Homo sapiens: one gene and its partner. The protein of the gene in region 2 purifies or fractionates together with the protein of the main gene of each other region. This does not show direct contact. Each region holds a gene or a part of one and is shown on either strand. Other genes may lie near its edges. The genes, in order: VPS50 and NRDE2.

Region 1 (3,824 bases), on a different chromosome or scaffold from region 2:
TGGGTGAAGTGAGTGAGGAGAAGAGTAGTGGGAGATGAGGTTAGGATGAGGTTAGATGACTGAAGGCAGGAAGCTAGATCATGTAGTACCTTATAGGTAATAGCAAGGTCATGGCTTTCATTCTGAGTGAAATGGCAAATAGAGGAATGATATAATTGGACATAACACTTCAGACAGACCATTTGGACCCATGTTTTAAGAACAGATTGAAGAGCGGAAAAGAGCAAAACCAGGGGAGGTGAATGATGAGGCTACTGTGGTAATCCAGGTGAGAGGGTGGGTGTAAGCCTTCCACCCTAGTGGTGGAAGTGTTGAAAGAGGTCAGACTGTGAATATGCTGTAAATGTAGAGGTGACAGAATTTCCTGACAGATTGGGTTTGGGCTGTGAGGGAAAGAGAAGCATCAAGGATGACTCAAAATAGTTTGGCCCTAGCAATTGGAAGAATGTAATTGCCATTTCCTCGGATGGATAAAACTGAGGGAGGAACAGATTGAGGGAAGGGACATGGTTTTTGGACTTGTTAATTTGAAAGCCTCTTAAATATTCAACTGGAGAGATACAGCAGGCAGTTGGCCAGATGAATCTGAATTTATGGGGCGAATCCAGGGTATAGCTGAAACTCTGGGAGTTACAAACATGTAGATTGCATATAAACTGGTTAAGATCACCAGTGGAATGAGTGTAGATATACAAAGAATCTAAGGTTGGAGCTTTTGAGAATCCAGTGTTAAAAACTCAGGGGGAAGTGGTGGATCTAGGAAAGCAGAATGAGAACATGCAGCTTGTGAGGTAAGAAGTCTTTAGCTTCCTGAATGGCACCTGGAATATAGCAGATGCTCAATAAATATTTGTTGCATGAATGTGGGATGAAGAGAACAACCAAGAAGACTGCCTTGAAGCCAAGTAAAGAATTTAAAAGAGTAAGGAGTGATTAGCTGTGTTAAATGCTGCAGATTGGTCAAGTAAGGTGAGAGTGAGAATGAGAAATGTGCTTTTGGATTGAGCAGCGTGGAGGTCCTTGGTGCCCCAACTACAGCAGTTTTCATGAAGTTGTGGGGAGGAAAGCCTGATTAGAGTGGGTTCAGGAGAAAATAGGGGGAGAGAAATTAGGGACTGGGTGTAAACACTCTTGAGTTTTGCCGAAAGGAGAAGGAAACACAAATCATCACAGATGCTTCTTTGGATGGATAAGACATAGTTGCTGGTTTCGTAAATGGAAAATGAGGATTAATGTAGACATAACTGAAGTAGTCTGAAGTGTTAATCTGATTTGGGTAAATGAAGAGGCGAGTGTTAATTTATGCTGAATTTTCTATATGTCTAAACTGGGGAATTATCAACACAAACATCAAATACAAAAGAAAATCAAATAGTGGTTAATGATAGCATCAAAGTGTTAATAAAGGCAGAGAACTGTAGTTAAAACCATGACTTCATGCTTTAGAGAGATGAAGATAAAATAAGAATGACTTCATTTGTTAGTAGAAGTTTATAAAACTGATAAAGTGTTAAAAATCTGTAATTCTAAAGTACAGTTGAATGTCAGATGTGCTTTGAGACATTTATGTAATTCTTCATTTCTGTTTTGATAAAAGGAAAGCATTTCTGTCATAATAAAAATATTAAGAATTATGGTTAATCATCACAGAATGCTTGAGATATATGAGACAGTATTTTTGGCTTCTCACATACATGACCTCTTTTACTTCTTTTTTTTTTTTTTTTTTTTTTTTTTTTTTTTCGAGACAGTCTCACTCTGTCGCCCAGGCTGGAGTGCAGTGGAGCGATCTCGGCTCACTGCAAGCTCCGCCTCCCGGGTTCATGCCATTCGCCTGCCTCAGCCTCTCAAGTAGCTGGGACTACAGACGCCCGCCACCACGCCCGGCTAATTTTTTTTTTTTGTATTTTTAGTAGAGACGGGGTTTCACTGTGTTAGCCAGGATAGTCTCCATCTCCTGACCTCGTGATCCGCCCGCCTCGGCCTCCCAAAGTGCTGGGATTACAGGCGTGAGCCACCACGCCCGGCCTGTTTTACTTCTTATAATAGCCTATGAATGATCATAGAATATAATGCACAGAAAGGATAGATAAGTTGTTCAAAACCACAGCAAGAAAGTCAGGATACAAACTCAAGTGGTCTGCTCCAGAGCCCATTGCTATAATCACTTCACTCTACATCCTCCTAACATGTACACGGGTTTTCAATTTGTATTACTTTTATTTTGTACATTTGGCAGAAATTTGCCGTGTATTGGTATTGAATTGTTGTGTGGTGACTACTTTTTCTAGATATTGGTATATATCACGTTTACATTTCAGGCATTGGTTTCTTTACGGACTAGCTCTGGGGAAAGAGAAATTAAATATGATATATTTCTTCAGGGATTTCTGTTAGATTAGTTAAGCAAATCTATACAGATGGTCCCCGATTTACTATGGTTTCACTTAATGAATTTTTGAGTTTATGATGGTTTTATTGAGATTATTAAATGTATTTTCCACTTATAATGGGTTTAAAAATTTTTTTTATTTTTAGTTCAAGGGTACCTATGCAAGTTTGTTCTATAGGTAAACTCGTGTCACAGGGGTTTGTTGTACAGATTATTTTGTCACCCAAGTATTAAGCCTGGTACCCAATAGTTATTTTCCTGATCCTCTCTCTCCTCCTACCCTCTACCCTCAGGCAGTCTCAGTGTCTGTTTTCTTCTGTATGTTTCCATATGTTCTCATATGATGGGTTTATTGGAACATAACCCAATTGTAAGTCGAGGAGCATGTGTACTTTGAAAAATGTTTGTTTAAAAGACATGGCAATTACATTTTAAAAATATATTTTAGGGGTGGTCATGATTTTGAATCAAATTGGGAAGTTTTACTTTCATGTGTGCATATATAATGTATATAGAAGTGTAGTTTGGTAACTCAGCCTTGCCTTCTTTACCAGTTTTGATGCTATTCCCTCATGACTGTTGGTGAGAATTCGAGACAGGGAAGAACAAACCGCCCAAGACTAGTAACATACTATTTTTCTCCCTCACTCATTGAAAGGCATATTAAACCTCCTTAGGCCTTTTTTTTTTTTCCAGCGAGCATTCCTAGAAATTTTTTTGCAGTCAATTACATGTTCCCATGGGAACAATGCGCTAATTTGTGGGAGATTGGAGCCTGACCAATGACTTCTACCTAATAATTTACTCATTTCTTTGTTGTTTACTCTGTTTCTGGAACTTTGCTAGCCACTGGGCTGCAGAGGCAAATAGGACTTTGTCTCTCCCTTTCCTTAGGACTTAAAGTTTGGAAGAGAAAGATATATTTAAAATTTAAAACTTTACTACTTTGGCTGAGGTATTGTCTTGGAAGATGTCTTACTGAGGTATTGTTTTGGGAAAATGCACATTCCTGGCCCAAATCTAGAAAAACCTATTCATTAGGTTTATTTTAGGGCCTAGGAATCTTACTTTTAACAAGTTCCCTGGGTGGTGTTGATGGACATGATCCAAGGGTTATACTGAGAAATACTGTGTTCTTTGGAGCATAGGGATTTAGGAAGACTTTGTAGAGGAGATAATTCTGAAAGTGATGTATTGCTTTCTCATTTCTTGGAGTGGTAAGTGTGCCTGAGAGAGGGAGACGGGGAGAGAAGGGTGGGTAGGTTAGATATTCTGGGGGTAATGGAAAACTTGCGGTTGAGGCAGAGCACTTTGTAATAAAAAATTTTAGATATGACTAGTGGTATTTTACAACAGGGAAGAGAAAATACACATCTCTGTAGTTTAAAGATAAGCAAGTTCTGCTCTGAGTCTCAAATAGTCAACATAAGCA
Region 2 (3,824 bases):
ATCGCTTCAGGCCAGGGGTTCAAGACAAGGCTGAGCAACATAGTGAGGCTGCATCTCTACAAAAAATAAGCTGAGTGTGGTGGCATGTGCCTGAAGTCCCAGCTATTCAGGAGGCTGAAGTGGGAGGACTGCTGAAGGATTTTGAGGCTGCAGTGAGCTATATTGCATAACTGCAGTGAGCTATATTGCATCATTGCATCCTGGGTAACAGAGGGAAACCCTACAAATTTTTCTGTAGTTGGGTGCAGTGGCTCACACCTGTAATCCCTGTATTTTTAGTAGAGATGGGGTTTCACCGTGTTAGCCAGTATGGTCTCAATCTCCTGACCTTGTGATCCGCCCACCTTGGCCTCCCAAAGTGCTGAGGCGGGCGGATCGCTTGAGGTCAGGAGTTCAAGAGCAGCCTGGCTAAATTTTGTATTTTTAGTAGAGATGGGGTTTCACCATGTTGGCCAGGCTGGTGTCAAATTCCTGGCCTTAATTGATCCACCCACCTCGGCCTCTCAAAGTGCTGGGATTACAGATGTGAGCCACCACGCCTGGCCGTTAGTTGATTATTTGATAAGGATTTTATAGCAAAAGTGCCTTCATTTAGGGAAACATTGTGTTAAATTATAGCCTAGGTCCTGTATAATTATTAAGATCTCATGCTAAGTGATAAATTGGATATAACCTAAATGTCTAATGATTGGGAAATGGTTAAATAAATTATGGCACATCCATACAATGGAACAGTTTGAAGTCAATACAAATTATATTTTCTAAGATTAATGGTATGAGGAGATGCTTTAAAGTAGGAAGGCAGGCCTGAAACTATGTGATATCAACTATTTTGAAAAAGGATGTATGTGCACACACATATATATACATACTGAAACACATATAGTGTCTGAAAGTAGATAGTAATATAGGCCAGTAACATTTTTCCCCTTCCCTTATCATTTTCATCTAATTTGTTATAAAAATGCAGCTGTTAGTTTAAAGTCAGGAAACAGTAAACATTTTTCAAGAGATTTTATGAATATCTAAAATACTGTATATTTTTTGTGAGACTAATGAGGAATCAATACTATTAAAAGAGGATAAAGGAGAACAAAACTAGCTTTTTAACTTAAAGTTTGTTCCTTAGGGAATGGCAGCCTTGTTTAGAACTACATTAGTGCTATTTTTTTTTTTTTTGAGACCAAGTCTCACTCTGTTGCCCAGGCTGGAGAGCAGTGGCTTGAGCCCGGCTCACTGCAACCTCTGCCTCCTGGGTTCAAGTGATTCTCCTGCCTCAGCCTCCCAAGTAGCTGGGATTACAGTCGTGTGCCACCACGCCCAGCTAATTTTGTATAGTTAGTAGAGACGGGGTTTCACCATGTTAGCCAGACCGATCTCAAACTCCCGACCTCTGGTGATCCACCCGCCTCAGCCTCCCAAAGTGCTGGGATTACAGGCATAAGCCACCACACCCGGCCTACATTAGTGCTATTTTATCTCATCACACCTTTGTTAAGGTTGTTTTTGACTCATAAATGGAATGGCAAGAGACTGTCATGAGATAGTCTGAAAGAATTGGGAGGGAGGCTAGATAAAAGGTTTGAGAGAGAATATTTATGTCTGTGTGAGAAAATAGTCCCCTACAGTGGAATTTGCTGTGTTTGGTCAGTGAGGAGGGCAGAGGCACTTAGAGAGGGGACCTGTTGACCGCAGAGAAGCCACAGAGGTGAGGGAGAGAGCCCGGCCCTGAACCAAGGTGAAGTGGAGCGGAGCTTCCTGGGAGCTGACAGAAGATGAAGGCAGTTCTCCCCTGCCTTTTTCTCCCCACGGCATTTCCGGTTTTATTAGGAAAAAATTTTAATATACAGCAAAAGTTGAAAGATTTTTACAGTGAATGCTCGTATAACTGCCCCCTACATCTACCATTAACTTTGTATCCATTAAGTTTGTATTGTACTTGTTTTGTCATATGTGTCCATCCATCAGCCCATCCTATTTTTTTGATGCATTTCAAAGTAAACTGCAGATCAATAAACAACCCCCTAAATACTTCAGCATGTGTATTATTAACTAGAGGTCAATATTTATTTAGTTTTATTCCTTTAATTGAAAATTTACATGCAATGTAATGCACAAAGCTTCATTCTCACCCGAACCTCTGTTAAAATGTGAAATATTACTCTGACCGCCAGAAGTTTCCTCGTGCTCTTTTCTGGTAAGTCTGTACCCCATTCTCCCAGAGGCAATCACCGTTCTTACTTGTTTCCACCCTCAATTCGTTTTTACCTGTTCTAAAATGCATGTAAGTGGAATTATACAGTGTGTACTCTTTTGTATCTGGCTTCTGGCTTCTTTCACTCAGTGTAATGTTTTTGAGATCATCCGTCCATAAGGCACTTACCAGTAGCTCCTTTTTACTGCTGGTAGTATTCCATTGTATGGCTGTACCTCTGTTTACTTATCCATCTTCTATTGATGGACACGTGGACTCTTTCAGTGTTTGGCTGTTAGGAATAAAGCTGCCGAGAGCATTTGTGCTCATGTCTTTGTGTAGACATGTGCTTTCCTTTTTCTTGGGTAAATATGTAGGAATAGAATTGCTGGGTCATAGGTTAGGTCTGTGTTGAATTTTTTAAGAAACAGCCAGATCTTTTCCCAAAGTGATTATACCAGTTTACATTCCCGCTGACAGCGGATGAGAGTCCTGGTTACTCCACAGGTTACTCACCAACATTTGGTGTTGTCAGCCTTTTAAATATTAACACTGTTCTAGTTGGTGTGTGGGGTACCTCATTGTGGTTTTAATTTGCATGTCCTTGTTGACTAAGGATGTTGAGTTGTTTTTTTTTTTATGTGCTTATTGGCTATTCATGTCTTCTTTTGTGGAATTTCAGTTCAGATCTTTTGCCCGTTTTTAAAATTGAATTGTTTGCTAACATACATACAGAAAAATGTACAATTTTCCTTAGCTTTTGCCTGTGCAAATATTCAGTAGTCATGTGTTTGTTAACTCTGGGGACGCCTACATGTTCCATAAAAGCGTTTTAGAACCCAACCTCTTTTCCTCTAGAGTAGAAAATAACCAAATGTAATTTCATTTGACATACTTTGTTTCAGGATTAAAAAAAGAATCTTAGGCCTATATGTTATCTTCTTAAGTAGGGACACAGGAAAATATTGAGAAAACAGGACTGGTCTAGGAAACAGATGATCCAGGTTCCCAGGCCTCAGTGTCCTTATTTAGGAACAGTTAAGAGAAGGGATGATAATTTTTGCCTTGCCTGTCACATATGGCTGTGATGATCAAATGACATAATGTGTGTGACAGTTCTTTACAAGGCTCCAGGAAAATAGAAATTACTAAGATCTAGAAGACAGGCATGATCTTAAATTCATGAGATGTTAAAGAAGAGTTGAAGTGTTATAGGAAGAAGTCAAGCCAGGCAGAAAGAAAGTTAATTACTAGTCCTTGTGTATCTCCAAATAGAAACAATCTGAAGGTGAGGTGAATTTGGTTATATGCAGTGAACCTGCATAACGAGAGTTTAGGTCTAATGCGCCTTTAGTCATTCAGAGGTAGTACACGTATTCCCTCAGTAACTTTTTTTCTTTTTCTAATATCAGATACAAGAGGAAAGGAGACTCCTGCCTTGGCATTAACCCTAAGAAGCAGTGCATATCTTGGGAAGGGACTTCCACAGAGAAGAAGCATTCACGCAAGCAGGTTGAACGCTATTTTACTAAGAAGAGTGTGGGATTAATGAACATCGATGGAGTTGCCATTAGCAGTAAAACTGAACCTCCCTCATCTGAGCCCATCTCCTTTATACCAGTGAAGGACT

Evidence for each region.
Region 1: the proteins of NRDE2 (region 2) and VPS50 purify together in Homo sapiens (co-immunoprecipitation; one large-scale study listed by IntAct). This does not show direct contact.

Annotation. Positions count from the first base shown.
Region 1 is NC_000007.14:93,235,227-93,239,050, forward strand, and holds part of VPS50 (syndetin), read left to right. Parts: intron 1-3,824.
Region 2 is NC_000014.9:90,304,165-90,307,988, reverse strand, and holds part of NRDE2 (nuclear exosome regulator NRDE2), read left to right. Parts: intron 1-3,606; coding exon 3,607-3,824. UniProt on the Homo sapiens protein: Protein of the nuclear speckles that regulates RNA degradation and export from the nucleus through its interaction with MTREX an essential factor directing various RNAs to exosomal degradation.